2 linked regions of the Homo sapiens genome follow. The protein of the gene in region 2 purifies or fractionates together with the protein of the main gene of each other region. This does not show direct contact. Each region holds a gene or a part of one and is shown on either strand. Other genes may lie near its edges.

Evidence for each region.
Region 1: the proteins of TOP2B (region 2) and NUCKS1 purify together in Homo sapiens (affinity purification with mass spectrometry; 2 studies listed by BioGRID and IntAct, with this or other methods). This does not show direct contact.

What each region holds. Positions count from the first base shown.
Region 1 is NC_000001.11:205,711,334-205,719,709, forward strand, and holds the end of NUCKS1 (nuclear ubiquitous casein and cyclin-dependent kinase substrate 1), read right to left. Parts: intron 8,344-8,376; coding exon 8,194-8,343; intron 7,147-8,193; coding exon 6,947-7,146; 3' UTR 1,489-6,946; downstream 1-1,488.
Region 2 is NC_000003.12:25,626,334-25,634,848, reverse strand, and holds part of TOP2B (DNA topoisomerase 2-beta), read left to right. Parts: intron 1-834; coding exon 835-1,008; intron 1,009-2,054; coding exon 2,055-2,156; intron 2,157-2,265; coding exon 2,266-2,403; intron 2,404-3,909; coding exon 3,910-4,048; intron 4,049-4,379; coding exon 4,380-4,537; intron 4,538-4,694; coding exon 4,695-4,820; intron 4,821-5,703; coding exon 5,704-5,814; intron 5,815-5,896; coding exon 5,897-6,002; intron 6,003-7,552; coding exon 7,553-7,662; intron 7,663-7,984; coding exon 7,985-8,077; intron 8,078-8,174; coding exon 8,175-8,289; intron 8,290-8,515. UniProt on the Homo sapiens protein: Key decatenating enzyme that alters DNA topology by binding to two double-stranded DNA molecules, generating a double-stranded break in one of the strands, passing the intact strand through the broken strand, and religating the broken strand.

The DNA.
Region 1 (8,376 bases), on a different chromosome or scaffold from region 2:
GTCAACATGACGAACATTTTCCTCAACAGTCACTATCATGAGACATAATCAGAAAATAAAAGCTTTTAAATAATTTGAGGCTTTGTGTCTAGGGGTCACCAGGATTTTCAAGCAAACCGAAGTATTCAATGAGAAATCTCCTTACTCATTGAAGTTTCCGACTTTCCCCATTAAATCTTTGATGTAACTCATTGGACTGGTTCAAGTATCACTGTTACTGGGAGATGTGAGAGAACAGCAAAATGCTCAAAAGCTCAATACCAGGAAGAAGGCTTAAGGGACCCATGTATACCAAAGGGAGCTGGCTTTAGAACGAACAACTGTGATAACTTAAAGCACACAGCACTGATTCAAACCCTTGTTGTACTACATACTAGCTACATCAGGTACCACATAAAACCTCATCTTACCTGAACCAGGTTATTCTTTACAATATTGGAAGAACAAACACTTGCCGATCTCACAGTTGTTGGAAAAATTAAATGAGGTAATATGTGTTGCACAACTACAGTGTAGTACTGTATACCGATGTTCATGGATAGGAGTCTAGGTAGCTCCAAGTGTGTTTTAACCTCTCTTCATCTGTTTATCCACTTGTTGGTTTTTGAAATCCTTTAAATCAGACTGCATTTCTTCAGCACTGTCCTGAAACATAAAATTGTCTATGTTATCCATAAAATACTTAAGGATTATGAGGAAAAGTAGATGGTTAATGCTCATCCAAATTCAACTTTAACCTGAGACAACTCATTATATTAAGAAATAAATGTATGTGGGCAGTGTGCCTGCACCTGTAATCTGAGCTACTGGGGGAGCTGAAGCAGGAGGATCCCTTGAGTCCAGGAATTTGAGACCAGCCCAGGCAACATAGCAAGACTCTCATATCTCCGAAAAAGAATAAAATGGCCGGGAGGGGTGGCTCACGCCTATAATCCTAGAACTTTGGGAGGCCGAGGTGGGCAGATCACTTGAGATCAGGAGTTCAAGACCAGCCTGGCCAACATAGTGAAACCCCGTCTGTACTAAAAATACAAAAATTAGCCAGGTGTGGTGGTGTATGCCTGTAATCCCAGCTACTTGGGAGGCTGAGGCAGGAGAATCACTTGAACCCGGGAGGTGGAGTTTGCAGTGAGCTGAGATCATGTCATTGCACTCCAGCCTGGGCGACAAGAGCAAGACTCCATCTCAAAAAAAAAAAAAAAAAAAAGAAAGAAAGAAATTTAAAAAGTTAGCTAGTCACTGACGGATAACAGGATGCACAAAGCATTTAATTTCAAAGCCAAATTTGCATTTCAATTATAGTATTTGGCTGACAAGGCAAGTATGTAAACAAGAGGAAAAGTTAAAAAGAAAAAAGCCCTAATAGCTACAATATCAGCCCAGTTCTAAAGAGGGATCTTGTACCACATTGTCCACCTAACAAGTAATCTTTAATTCAAAATTCAGCGTAGTTCTTATGGGTATTTGGAATTGAATGCAAGTGTGTTCTGTGAGTATAAACATTATCTTTTATTATATATGATTGTTAAACTTTGCTTTCCACAACACTTCATAACCTTGGATGTAAACATGAGAAAAAATGCTAATTAAGAATCCTTACGCACCCAGTCCAGTGCTCCCTTAATTAATCAAACTGGTAAGTCTACTGCTTCTTGATTCCATCCTGAGGTATTAACTTTTGAACCAAGACATGTTTATCTTTTACCAACAACAGGGATGGTCACTGTTAAAGTTTCTAAATAATTTATTAGGGAAATAAGTTCCCACAAAGTCAGGCTGAACTGGGAGCTGATTAACAAAGCTGTGTAAGTTAGTGTGTTTGCTTTAAGGTATTACAAGAAGTACACAGAGCACACATCTGGGTTATAAAAGCCCTTTTATAAAGCCATTTTTAAACAAAACAAAAAAAAAGTTTACAAAAGAAAAAAAGATACAGAAAAAGAATAACTTGCTTCATATGTCCCAAAAAGAGAAAAAAATAAAGGGGACAATGCCAACATGCTCAACAATAAAGGCTTCTTTTTCTTATTTTTTTAATACAAAATACAAGCAAAGGATACACATACTTAAAACAGAGCTCAGGAGCAGACACGCAGTCCTGGAAACCCTTCAATAAAAGCAAAGCAGGAGTTTGTTTTTTCTTTGTCTATGCAGATACATACAGAGACTGGGATATGTAAAAATTAAGTATCACAAAAGACCATCACACGATTCTACCAATGCATGTTGCATCTGTAATTCACGAACATGGTCAACAAAATCATGTTCACTTCAACCCCATTTCATTTAAATTAAAGAAAAAAACCTTTTAAATAAAGTGGTTACATTCAAACTTTAACTTCCTTAGTACCATGCTGCAGATTTCAGCACTGTTAAGGTATTGCAAGAATGCCCAACCCTCTGGTGTCTGATCATGTATCTAGCAACATTGCAGTATGAAGAAAAGAGATGCCCCGGTCTCAGCCCATGGACTAGTTAATACAGTGAAGCAGGTTCCTGTCTTTTACCCTTCCTGCTCAGAACATAAAAGATTAAGGACTAAAATCAAGGAAGACTGGGAGTTTTAGAGCTGGCAAAATGAAGTCTAAAAGATAAATCAAGGCAAACAATTACTGAGAACTTGGCTGTTGCTTAACCTGGCAAGTCTAAAAGCCTTTCTTTAACCTTGTAGGAATTAGATGCATAAGGTTTGCTGCAACATGTTCATGGTAAACAAACTAAGTAGAGCTCTTATTTACAAATCTTGTAACAAATACTTCTGGAGGAAAAAGAGAAAAGAATTCACTAAGTTCCAGAAGACAAAGCTTTAATTGCCAGATGTATACAAACACACACTCACACGTACACACCCACACAATACTTCAGGGGTTTTTATACATGTTATTTTAGGGCATAAGCTGAGTACTATACCCCCACACCCCATCAAAAAAGGAACAACAAAAAAATCCCAATTTTACCCTCCCCCAATAATCTAGAAAACCCTCCCTTCACCCCTGATGTACAAAGTGTATGCACAACGGTGGCATTCTACCAGCCACACAAAGCATGCTCAAACAGATGTCACCAGTTCAGTCACTCCATTGGCATGGCAACAGGCAGGTTTACGGGATGTTTCCCAATAGTGGTTATTACACAGTCAGCACCACTGTGAATTTTGTGAATTTGAAAAAAAAAAGTGTAATTTATGGATTCAGGATTCAAAAAGAATCATTTTGTATCGAATTTACCCCAGACAAAGGGAAAACTGGTTGCGACTGAAACTTGGCTATAGATAGCTTGATGTCCCAATATTCAAACAATAAGCCAACTCTCCATTTTCAAGTAAATCCAGCTTCATCCACAGAGAAACAGACAATTTTCTAACCTCAAGAGCAACCAGCTTGTTACATTTTCCCTATCCTATGGCAGGAAATGCGTATTACTTCTGTTCTGTTTAAGCATCTCAGTCTAAATGCCATGAAGACCAGAGCCCAGGTTTCTTCCTTTTCAAATTCTTAAGGTGAAAGTTTTTTCCTTTCAGTGCAGCTACCAATGATGCAGGCAAAGAACTGTTCAAGCCAGCACTCATTCTTCAAAGCTGCAACAGTGGCCACCATGATCTTTTATAAAGCTTTCCCCGTTGCTCCTGATATTTATTTCTGCTTTTGCCTAACGCTCTCAAAGCATCTCGTAAACTGAAGTTTAAAGAAAAGCACGATTCCCATCCCCAACCAGTACTTGAAAATCCACTTATCTGAATGTTCACAGATAAAAAAGCCATTAAAAAAAAGAGTCAAGTTTAGTCTAGCTGACCATATTCACAAGTGTTAAAAACTTTACTGGAGTATAACCTCAAATTTCACTCTTGATTTGTTATCTGTAAGAAAATGCTATTTGAGCCAGTACCAAATTAAGTATTAAAATGAGGATTGAACTGGGGCAAACAGGTTATTGTGAAAACAGTCAATATGTAAGCTCCTTCAAGGGAAATCAACTACTGTTCCTCAAGATTAGAAGATGTCCACACTCTTTGCATTACCTCCCTAAAGGAGGAAACACCCATTAATTTTCCCTTATGGAATCAATATGGAGTGGAAATATGAAATGAGGAGATGTTTTAGAAAGCAGGACAAATCTACCTACCATTACTGGAATTAAAATGTATCCTCTGGGCCCACTCCATTGATTCCGATCTGAGGTGAGGAGGACTAAAAGCAGCAGCAGGTTACAGAAAGACTGAATAAGATGAAAGTATGCTACGTATGTCTAGCTGGGGAAGGGGGGATCTGGAAAAAAAATCTTAAGAACTAGAATGTAGTGTCAGTCAGCATAGCTGCTGAAATCTACGTTGTAGAGGTAAACCTAGCAGAGCTAATACAAACAAGCACCTTCAAAGTTAACGTCCCACTTCCTGAGCACTGCAAAATACGACAGTGAATGCTATTGCCATTTCACCATAGGCACACTAGAGAAAAAGAGGAAGGTTAGTCAAGGATGGTGCCAATGGCCAGTCAGTATCGGCTTACAGCTTGTAATGCGTCCTGACATCACTATCAAGCCTGACTATTGAGCACCTGTATCCAGTTGAGTCACCACCACTGTCCTCCTATTTGCATGCATGATTTGAGGGGAAGACTAGAGTGTTTTAAATCATCAATAAAAAGTGGAGAAAACAAAGGTTATTCAGAGCCTGTCTCACTTGGGGACACAGATCCTTCTGTCCAGTCTATCAGAAATATAGAATACATTTTTCAATCTAATGAATTAATTTTAAAAGGGACCCTAAACAAGAAGCCCAATCAAATGCACACAAGTAATCTAGAAGACATGATTACCTCTAAAATATGTGCATATATCACAGAGATGTTAGTGCAGATTAATATATTAAAGAGACTGTTAAACAACTGAGGCTGAAGTTTTAAAAGAGCCCTCCCCCCAAATCTTCACGAAACATAACCTAAGAAAAGCCCAAATGTTACTAGGAATGTAAGACTTAAAATTATAAACTCCTAAAAAATAGAAGTGCATGGTGGAAACACTGATAGGTCTTTTACTATATGAACACAAACTTCTTTGTTAAAAATGGATACCTGAACAAACCCATTTAGGCAAATAGATTAATCTTTAACACCCTCATTACAAAGTTCACACCTCTGAATTTAACCGTCATGAAAGAGAATGATCCAACTGCTATTTATGTTCAAGTCCTGTATTTTTGGCCATGTAACTGAAAACTCCTTATTCATTCTTTAACACACAGTGCAATAGTGAAATGACTCTGCCACTGTGTGTTTTTTAAAAAAAGATCAGAGTAAGCATGTTCCTAGTAAACCACAAAGTAGGATATTGAGGAAGCAAATCTAGATTAAAAGGCAGGAAAAAAAGGCAGAAGTTTAAATTTCACTAATTTTTCAATTTATTAGCATACCAGGACCCTTTAAACCTTGTTCCCATTAGCGCCTGGTATTAGATGTGAAGGATCAAACCTACGGATCTATCTCCTGACTGCTTTTATAAGGCGTGTAAAAGTCGGTTTTCAACTGCACACAGGCCTCCTAAAATGCCTTGTTTCTCTAGTCCCTCCTGCTTTAAGCAGCATGAGCAGTAAAGCAGGGGTTGGACCAAATAAAAAGACAAGAGCTAACTGAATTGTATGGGAGCAGCATTTAACATATTCCTAGTCAAGGACAGGATGGGAAGTAAGTGAAGAATAGGGCCAGGAAAATAGTGTCCTATAGCAGAGGTGGTTGGCACTCGGGGTAGGGTGTGCAGTGGTGCTCTACGAAGCAGCAGGATCACAGGGATGTACTTCTTATCACATTTCTATGAAGAAATGGGAAGATCGGGATATGAAAAAGAAAATGTTCTATCCCCAAATAAAAGCAGAGCATGGTTAATGGGACCTGAATGCACATTTATAGCATAAAAGAATGTCAATTCTATTTCATAAAGGAAAAATCTCAACTCTTTGTGACTGAGTTTCACATTAACTGGAACTTTATTTGCTTAAAACCTAAACATTGTCAGTTTGAAAAGAAATCCACTGTGACCTGTAGACTGATCTTGTTGATTAAATTCTAGGGTTTTTTTTTTTTTGGATTCTTGGTAAAATTTTATCCAAAAAACAGGATACATATATATTTAGAGAAGGAAATATGAAATCAAGAGTTTTGGCAGCCCCTGCTTTTTTTTTTTTTTTAGCTCCCTAAAGACTGTAGCAGGATAAAAGGATCACTGGCTCCGAGTCTCTTTGAGATAACAAGTGATGAAATAAAAAAGAAAGCCCATACCCTCAAATAAGGTCAGGTAACCCCATTGCCCACCCTCCCTACAAGGTAAAAAATGAGTACTTTTAGTAACAGTTCAGAATTCATCTTTATCTCCTACCTGCCTCATCGGTGGAAGTTTAAAGTCATGATTTTTTTTAGACATTGATACTTGTGTCTATAGACAAATAAACTCATATTAGATGACAATTGATTTTTTAAAAGTCCAGGTAGAGAAAGGAGCAATCATTTTGAACTAAAATCTTTCTATGTTTTTTGATTACTATTCAACTTGCTATTTTTTAGCAAAAAGCGAAGTTTCAATAGTGTTCATCTCAAATCTTATTGCTTTACAACCGTGGTACACCTTTCATTAAAAATAAAAAGATGAAGCAGTCAATCCAGTGATTAATTTGACATGGCTTTCATTGGGAAAGGGGAGGGCTGGCAAAGAGACCAATAGACAAAAAGGTAACTTAAACACTTACACATACAATGGTTTGCTTTAAAAAAAAAAAAAAAAAAAGAGAGAGAGAGAGAAATGTTACTTTCAACAAATGGAAAAAAGCACTGAAAGCCCATGAGTCAAGCCATAGCCAAAACCATGTTCTATCTTAAGTAGGTTCTTTTTTTTCCTCCCTCTTTTTTCTTTTTTTTTCTTTTTTTTTTTAATAAAATCTCTCCCCAGACCATCATCACTTTTAATCCTCCCCAGAAGGGGCTTCATCTTCAGACCCTTCATCCCCAGATTTCTCGGGTGGGGGGCTTGTAGATGTTTTCTTTTCTGGCGGGCTTTCCGGTTCCTCATCTTCTTCTTTGGGAGAAGGAGTCTTTTCCTTTGATGCCTTTGAAGCTGTGGGGCGACCCACTTTCCCTTTGCCTTTCACTGGACTTGGCGTCACTGAAAATAGAAAAATAATTTGGGGAAGGGAAGAGAAAAAAATGTCTTTAATAAAAGTCAGCTACAAAATACAACAATCTGTAAGAATAAAATCTATAAAGACAATATGCAACTTACTAAAAACCAAGGTGGGCACAAGGGAGCACATATATCCCTAGGTAAATCTATCTCAGTTTCTAAACTGGTCATAAGTTACTACACTATGCTACAGTATTTCCCATCAGTTTTTACCAACACTCTATGATGTTAGCAGTAATACCTGTAAAGAAGAAGCACCATGCTATAGAATATGCACAACATCCTTAATTGCTTGGTAAACTAACAGTTGTTTATGATAAAAGTTGTTTATAAAAAGCAGGTCAAAAAGACGGAAGGAAAAGAATTAATCTGATCAGAAACTAAAGCCATCAAATAACATTTGATAGTTCCATCATTCCTAACAGTAGGAAGTGATAAACAGAAGTTTAACAATGACTAGTTCTACCTAACAGAATAAAACCACCTACACAAAAAGCAAATTGATTTCTGATTTAGTTAACAAACTAGCTCCAACGAGGAGAAACCATTAGGGCTCAGAAAAAAATCAACTCATGTCATCAAGTGTGGTTTTATTCTGATAGCACAGAGGATGGGGTAGAGTTCAGAACGTGGAACTTAAACGTATTACTCTAGGTTTGTGCATTTTCACAATTAAGTCTTTGCTGGCTGCTGAGACTGTGATACCAGTGAGGAAAAAAGAGCAGTAACAACTATGATGACACAGTGTTTCTACCACTGTGTCTGAAACAAATAGATCATTCTGAAATCTTGCTCAAGTACTGGCAGTAGTTGAAGAACATGGCTAAGCCCACTAGACTCTTAAACAGGCTAGTGTCTTTATTAATAAGAGATACTTCCAGTTGCAGAATACAAGACCCTTTTAGATTTCTTGTATTCCTGCTAAACATCAGGCCAATGCCAAATCCTAATGAGGAATTTCTGTATTGAAAATAATGATTCTCAAAATTTTTAAAGCAGTAAATTTAATTTCACTTCTGCAGAAATTACCTGTAGCCTTTAGTCTGGGTTTGGGCATTTTCTTTTCTTTTCTTTCAGGTTTGGACTTCTTAACCATCTTTTTGTTTTTCTTTTTCGAACTGCCATAGTCACTATCGTCATCATCTTCCATTAGGAAATCTTCATCGCTGCCGGAATCTTCTGAGAAGAAAGAAGAATTTCAACATCTAACTT
Region 2 (8,515 bases):
TCAGCCTGTGTCCTTGAGGTTTCCTGCCCTGCAGAATAAGCCTTTTTTTGGTTTTTTTTTTTTTTTTTTTGGTAAGGGAGATAGATCTGGGTTGATTTCCCAGTGACTACTGTTTCTGTCTCCCAGCTAGCACCATGGGAGTGCAGAGGGGAAACCTCTAGATTCTCACTGGTCTTCCCTGTGAGAATTTGGTGGGTTTTCTGAAAGAAAAACCTGCAAGAGTATGAATGAATGAACTTATGACTATAGTCCCTAGAAGCTTTATGCATTCAAACTAGTATACACTCTTCCAGTAGCAATTAGTCAAAATTTCTAGTTTAAAGTTCCTACTAGCTTATTAAATATCTGCCCCAGGTAAGCAAAAGCTTAGGTTTTGTGGTCTCCTACAGACACTTATGTCTCTCCAGACTTCAGGATGGCCAGCTCTCCTGTGATCTCAGTTCTTCAGTGGGTTCATGAAAAACCCATTAATTTGTTGTCTGATCACCCGTTTTCTTACAAGGATGGAAGCTTTTTTTCCTGCTAGTTCATTATCTGTCTGAACTGAAACTGGAAGTCTACCTTATCATTTTAAAAATAGAAATTTCTGAAATATTTTATAACAATTTACCTGTCCCTTCACATCCTCTTTTTGTCAAGTACACATAGAAATGAATTTCTTTTTTAAAGGTCAAGGGTTAAGGAATAGATCTGGGAAATGCCACTAAGGTTTGGATCGGTGCACTTAGAACTGTTGTAAGTGAGAGGAAATGAAAGTATACGTACTGAAGGTGATTCACCTATTTGAGCTGCCAGTGTAAGATTTTTAATTGTTTTTGTTTTTTAAATTAATAGGTAAATGGATTTCGCAGTTATGTAGATCTTTATGTGAAAGACAAATTGGATGAAACTGGGGTGGCCCTGAAAGTTATTCATGAGCTTGCAAATGAAAGATGGGATGTTTGTCTCACATTGAGTGAAAAAGGATTCCAGCAAATCAGCTTTGTAAATAGTATTGCAACTACAAAAGTAAGTAAGCAAATTATTTGTTTCCAAGTCAGTGGTAGAACAGTACTTCAATAAAAACTACAAAACAAATAACAATATCCACAACCCCCAAAAAACCCAAATCTGTTTTTGTTAAATAAGAATTGACTTATGAAAACAAAAACCTATTTTCTATGAAATTGCTGTATTAAAATTTATTTAAACAATTATTGAGAAATAAATTTATATGACTAGTGTTTGTAGTTGAACATATTTATATTTTATGAAATTTAGAATAACAAATTCCTTTTTCTGTAACTTTTAGCCCCACCTTCCCCAACCTCTGGGGAGAGGAGAGGGGGCTGGTGACTGAGTTAAAAATCAATTATGGCTATGTGATAAAGCTCTGTAAAAACTCCTGAACAATGGAGTTCACAGAACTCCTAGGTTGGTGAATACATTTGAGGTGCCAAGAGGGTGGCATGTCTGGGTAAGGCATGGAGCTTTGTGTACCCTTTCCCCTGTACTATGCCCTATGCATCTCTTCCATTTGGCTATTATTGCTGGATCCTATATAAAAAACTTGTAAATGAAGTAAAGTGTGTTCTTGAGTTCTGTGACCTGTTCCAGCAAATTATCATTCCTGAGGAGTGGGTCATAGGTTCGTTAGAAGTACAGGAGGCCTAGGACTTGTAACTGGCATCTGAAGTGTGGGGAGTCCTGTGGGATTGAGCCCTTAACCAACCCTAAATACTTGTGCTAACTCCAGGTAGTTAGTATCAAAATTGAATTACATTGTTGAACATCCATTTGGTGTCTGGAGAATCAGAGAATTGGTTGCTGGTGTTGAAAGCACCTGAGAATTGGTGTTAGAATTGAAGTGAGGAAAGCAAACAAACAAACAAACAAAAAAAACACAGCGGTTGGTTTATTGGCTCTGTAGCCAAAATGTCTTATTTTTTTAAAATCTCAACTCTCGTTCTGAGACTCTATTACTCTTTTAGAAAATAGGGTTTATAATACAGATAAAGTATTTTGCTACTTTAACAATACAGGATTTCAGATTTCATATATTTTTTTTTCTTTAGGGTGGACGGCACGTGGATTATGTGGTAGATCAAGTTGTTGGTAAACTGATTGAAGTAGTTAAGAAAAAGAACAAAGCTGGTGTATCAGTGAAACCATTTCAAGTAAGGGATGTGTTATATATTGTACATGATGCATACATATGCATTATATATATACTGAATTACTAAATATCAGCTCTGATATTGACTTTTTTGGGTATGTTTTCAACAGGTAAAAAACCATATATGGGTTTTTATTAATTGCCTTATTGAAAATCCAACTTTTGATTCTCAGACTAAGGAAAACATGACTCTGCAGCCCAAAAGTTTTGGGTCTAAATGCCAGCTGTCAGAAAAATTTTTTAAAGCAGTGAGTAAAACTTGTATTTTTTTTATTGTTGTTATTAAGAGTTGATTAGGTAGTTTTCTTGATTTACTTTATTTGTGATTAGTTTCTTTCATCGTATTAACTGTGGGTATAAGCATGCTTGCACTACAAACTAATATGCTTAATTTGATAACTTTAAAGGGTAGACTTTAATGTTTCCTAAAACAATTGTTTTGCCAAGAACTAAAGTAGGGAATTATGTAACTAATTGCATTTTTAGCTTTGTATTGACCATTGTAAAGGTCAGATTTCCCCTAACAGATGTCCAGATCCTTATGCAACTCTTTCATCTTTTCTACTCTCATTTCAACTTGATCTACTGATTCTTATCTTTATACATGTTTAAAAATTGTGGTAACATGTATAACAAAATGTACTATTTTCTACATGTTCTTAAATTGCTTTGCTTTGCACATAATTTTTTTAGGCTACCTTAACTTCTCTAAAATAAGGTGAGAGCACAAATAAATAATGGAGATGAATCAATCACAGCCTCTCCTCTTTGGAATTTTGGTGGGGAAATGCTCTATAACTGCCCTAGAACTAATGTATTTCTCAAATTCCAAAAAGTAGATTATCAGAAACAAAAACAAAAGTTGTTTTTTAGGTTCTAACTTAAGGCCTGTAGAAATAGTACTTTTGGATCTAATCTTAATGAATTCTGAGTACAAATTATGCTATATTAATGCTTTCCCAAATTTCTGTCCTCATAACAATTGTTTCCTTGATGAAGTGATTTGATTTTAAATTTTATACTTTTTCATTTTAGGTGCACTAAGTTTAAATTTGACAACACAGTTCACCTCTTTTGTTTATGTCTTAAACATTCCAGAAAACTGTTTTATACACCTAACATCAAATCACCGAGGATGATAAAAAAACTTTTAGGACTTAGAGTTGGAGATGCTTAACTTTCTTTTCCTTTTTCTGTCTGGGTTAACATCTTGCCACAGATTGATTCACTGCAGAGTACAAACAATATGTAATGTTGAAATCTTTATTACCAAGCTATTTAAAGAATAAAAGTCTATTCATAAGTTACCAAGGTTATCCTAATGTTCCTTTTAGGTTAATACTTTTTGTCATAGTGAATTAAAGACTCACGTTTTGTATTGAAGGATATCAGAAATGTCAACGTCTGGAATTTGCCGGCTAGTAGGTTCATGTGTGGATCTGTTTTCACTGTGTTAATTTTAATAAAATTAATTTGTAACAAGAGCAATGCATATTCCTCATGGAGTTTATTATAATAGAATGTTTCTCATATGTAAAAGTTATCCTTTTTCATGTATTTATATTTTAGCTTTAATTTTACAGTAGTTGAGTAAAAGCTGATTAGCATGTATCATGATGCTTATCACCATTATTGTTTTGCCCTAAAATACCTTAAAATTGCACAGATTCCAGGTCTTGCATTAGGCCCTATACATTTTAGCTAAATGTATGAATTTTCAGCTTGTTTGTATACCATTATTCTTTTATTTTTAGGCCTCTAATTGTGGCATTGTAGAAAGTATCCTGAACTGGGTGAAATTTAAGGCTCAGACTCAGCTGAATAAGAAGTGTTCATCAGTAAAATACAGTAAAATCAAAGGTATTCCCAAACTGGATGATGCTAATGATGCTGGTAAGATTGATATTTTTAAATAAGATTTTGATTTAAGTTTCACTTTTATTTAGTTACAGAATTTTTTTATTTTCTACATATAGTTAGACTATGATTTTCCATTCAGAGTATGATTTTACTTCATTGAAATTATCACATACACAACATATTACTAATTTTCAGGGGATAGGAATTTAATAAAATATACTTAATATTTATACTGAGCAATAATGTAAAATAACTTTTATAGTCTTTCACTGTCAGCATTCTAATGTTAATTTTCTGACTTCATTTTTCTCATCAGTGAAAGTATGAGAAATTTTTACTATGTATAATTTTAAATTTCTCTCAGGTGGTAAACATTCCCTGGAGTGTACACTGATATTAACAGAGGGAGACTCTGCCAAATCACTGGCTGTGTCTGGATTAGGTGTGATTGGACGAGACAGATACGGAGTTTTTCCACTCAGGGGCAAAATTCTTAATGTACGGGAAGCTTCTCATAAACAGGTATGTATGTGTGTGTATATATATGTGTATACACACATGCACACATACATATGACATTTCTAATACTTTACTAAACTTCTCGAATTTTTAAATGTAATTTCTGACTCGTATATTTCAACACTTCAAACTACTCTCAGTGCTTTTCCTTTTTGAACAGATCATGGAAAATGCTGAAATAAATAATATTATTAAAATAGTTGGTCTACAATATAAGAAAAGTTACGATGATGCAGAATCTCTGAAAACCTTACGCTATGGAAAGATTATGATTATGACCGATCAGGTTGGTTTTAAAGTTACCACATATTTCAAATTCATGTCTTCTTCAGATTCTCCCTTTAATATTTGTTTTATGAGACTTGCCCGAAGATGGTATAACTGAAAGTGATTATACATCAGGAGGAAAAAATGAAAAAACCACGTCATTTAGTGGAAACATTTTTATGAAGCACATTTTACATTGTCTGATTTTTGGGGTAACTAAGGAGAATATAATACAGTGTGGTACTATAGCAGCCTACCTACAAGTAGGAACAAAATTATGGAATTAACAAGTAAGAAAGATTAATGATAAGGGTTAATATTTATACATGATGGCATGATTTGGAATGCACAAATACCAGGACTTAAATAGTAAAATGATGGTAATCGAGAAAGAACTAGAAAATTGAAAAGGAAGAATTTCAGATGCATTCAACTGTTTTCTCTTATGCACTCTAAAGTATTTGTAGAGAAAATCTGCAACTGAAAAAACTGCTATTAATATATAGTTTTAAGCAGAAATTTTCCAATTTTTTATCTAGGGAAGACTTGTGAATATCTGTATTACCTGGGTTTCCCTACCATTGCCCATTAAGGTGGCATTATAACCATGTTTTATTTTATGTATTTTCTATCCTTAAATCATTCTTTTAGTGAAATCTGGGGAAACTATAAAACAGATAAAATGATAATATATTTTTATAATGACAGATTCAGTCTATTACTACTATATTCTTTATTTGTGTATTAAAAAATTTAGTATGATCATCTTAATAGCTTTTGTAAAATGCATTTCTAAAATTCAGAATTTTGGTTTTTTGCATTCACGTTTTAAAATTTGTTTATATAAGTAATCATTTTATAAAAGTATTACAACATTTTTTACTTTACTAACATTTATTTAGGATCAAGATGGTTCTCACATAAAAGGCCTGCTTATTAATTTCATCCATCACAATTGGCCATCACTTTTGAAGCATGGTTTTCTTGAAGAGTTCATTACTCCTATTGTAAAGGTACTCTTTGCATTAATATATTTTTATATTGTTGTCTTAAAGGGTAGCAGAAAAACTAATTTTGTTTTTTAATTAATTTAAGGCAAGCAAAAATAAGCAGGAACTTTCCTTCTACAGTATTCCTGAATTTGACGAATGGAAAAAACATATAGAAAACCAGAAAGCCTGGAAAATAAAGTACTATAAAGGTTTGTATTTTAAAATACTTAGATTTTAAATACTGATATAAATGTATTCTTATGAAAGCAATCTAAAAGATGACTTGAAAGTTTGACTATTTTAGACTTCGAAAATAGCTATCACTGATTTTAAAGTATTGTTATAGAAAAATGTATGCAAGTAGAATAGTGTAATAGATTTCATTGAATGGGATCACCATTTCAATGGCTAGTCTTGTTTCCTGTAAACCTCCTTTATTGCCACTCCATTAGTTTGAAAAAACTTCCAGACATTATAGTCTAGTATTTCACCTATAACTACTTCAGTATGTATTTCTGAAAGAATTTTTTTAAGTAACCCATAATACCATTATCATAACCTTCTTTAATATCCTATTGTTGAGACAGGGTCTTGCTTTGTCACCCAGGCTGGAGTGCAGTAGCATGAACACAGCTCACTGCCGCCTTGACTTTCCGGGCTCAAATGATCCTCTTGCCTCAGCCCCCGCAAGTAGCTGGGACTACAGGTGTGTGCCACCACACCCAGCTAATTTTTGTATTTTTGTAGAGATGGGGTTTTGGTTTGTTGCCCAGGCTGGTCTTGGACTCCTGAGTTCAAGCCATCCACCCACCTTGGCCTCCCAAAGTATTGGGATTACAGGTGTGAGCCACCATGCCTGGCTCCCTTTTTTTTTTTTTTTTTTTAAATAATGTTAAATACCCAGCCAGTGTTAAAATTCCCCTGGACTGTATTAAAATTGTTTATTTTTAGAGTTTTTTATTTTTATTTTTATTTCGTTTTTTTTTAATTGTTTTTATTTTTTTGAGATAGAGTCTTGCTCTGTTGCCCAGGCTGGAGTGCAGTGGTGGGATCTCGGCTCTCTTCCTCATGTGTTCAAGTGATTCTCATGCTTCAGCCACCCAAGTAGCTGAGATTACAGGCATGTGCCACTATGCCTGGCTATTTGTAGTATGGGTGGGGTTTTGCTGTGTTGGCCAGGGTGGTCTAGAAGTCCCGGCCTTAAGTGATCCGCCCACCTCAGCCTCCCAAAGTGCTGGGATTACAGGCATGAGCCACCATGCTTGGCCTGAGTTTGTTTGTTTTTTTCCAAAGTCAGGATCCAAGTAAGGTCCACACATTGCATTTGGTTGATAAGTTTATTAATATAGCATTTCTCTTTTTATATTTTTTCCTTGTAATTTATTTGTTAAAGAAGTTGGGTTGTTTGTTCTGTGTAATATTCCACATTCTGGATTTTGTTAATTATATTCCTCTAGTTACATTTAATATATAGTATTTTCCTTTGCCCTTATTTTCTGTTAACTGATGGTTAAATCAGAGGCGTGATCAGATTTGGGTTACATTTGTTTGGCAAAAACATTTCATAGGTAGCGTTGTGTGCTTTCATCAGGAAGCATCTAATGTCTACTTTGTCTTTAGTTGCTTATTAAGATTGATCACTTAGTATAGGTGTTGCCAGCTTGATCCATCTATTACAACTTTTCCACCAGCTTTTTACTTGATGGTTTTAAACAGACATTGATATTCATGACTCACTTTTATTTTTAAAATTGTGCAGGATTGGGTACTAGTACAGCTAAAGAAGCAAAGGAATATTTTGCTGATATGGAAAGGCATCGCATCTTGTTTAGATATGCTGGTCCTGAAGATGATGCTGCCATTACCTTGGTAATTAAGTTAATTTTTTAAAAGCTTTTGTTAGCCATCCCCCTACCTTCTATTCCTTTCCTCCCAGTCCTGGTTCCCTATGATAAGTCTCTTTTGAATGCTCAAGCTAGTTAATTTTAATTTTTCCCCCAGATGATGCTGTGCTTGTATAAACTTCTTTAATTGAAAGACCTTAGTTTAAATGTGTTTTTGATTAAAATATTGTAAAATAACCTAATTTTCCAGAAATTAAGAATTAGTTATTGGCCACTTATACATTTTAATTTTGTAATAAAATTTATTTTATTTTTAATGTGCAAAATCGTTACCTGGAATCTTTCAGGCATTTAGTAAGAAGAAGATTGATGACAGAAAAGAATGGTTAACAAATTTTATGGAAGACCGGAGACAGCGTAGGCTACATGGCTTACCAGAGGTTAGTCTTAAAGAGTGGTGACCTGGGGAAAGAAGGAGAGAGAGACTAGAATTCATGCAGTAATAATGATAATATTGCTATATAACTTTTCTCTTAGCAATTTTTATATGGTACTGCAACAAAGCATTTGACTTATAATGATTTCATCAACAAGGAATTGATTCTCTTCTCAAACTCAGACAATGAAAGATCTATACCATCTCTTGTTGATGGTGAGTAATATTTAAAAACCTCATTTTTTAATGTTATTTACTATAGTTTAATTTCATGTACTTTAAGCCATCCTTATGATACATATTAAAATTCTTACTTTAAATCTTGTATATGAAGAGCTTATTCAGAGGAATTTAAGGCCTTTTTGATTTTGCTTTTGTTTTATGTTTTCATAGTGCTGAAATCTTTAATATTCCTTAATTTGAAACTTTTAAACCTTTTCCG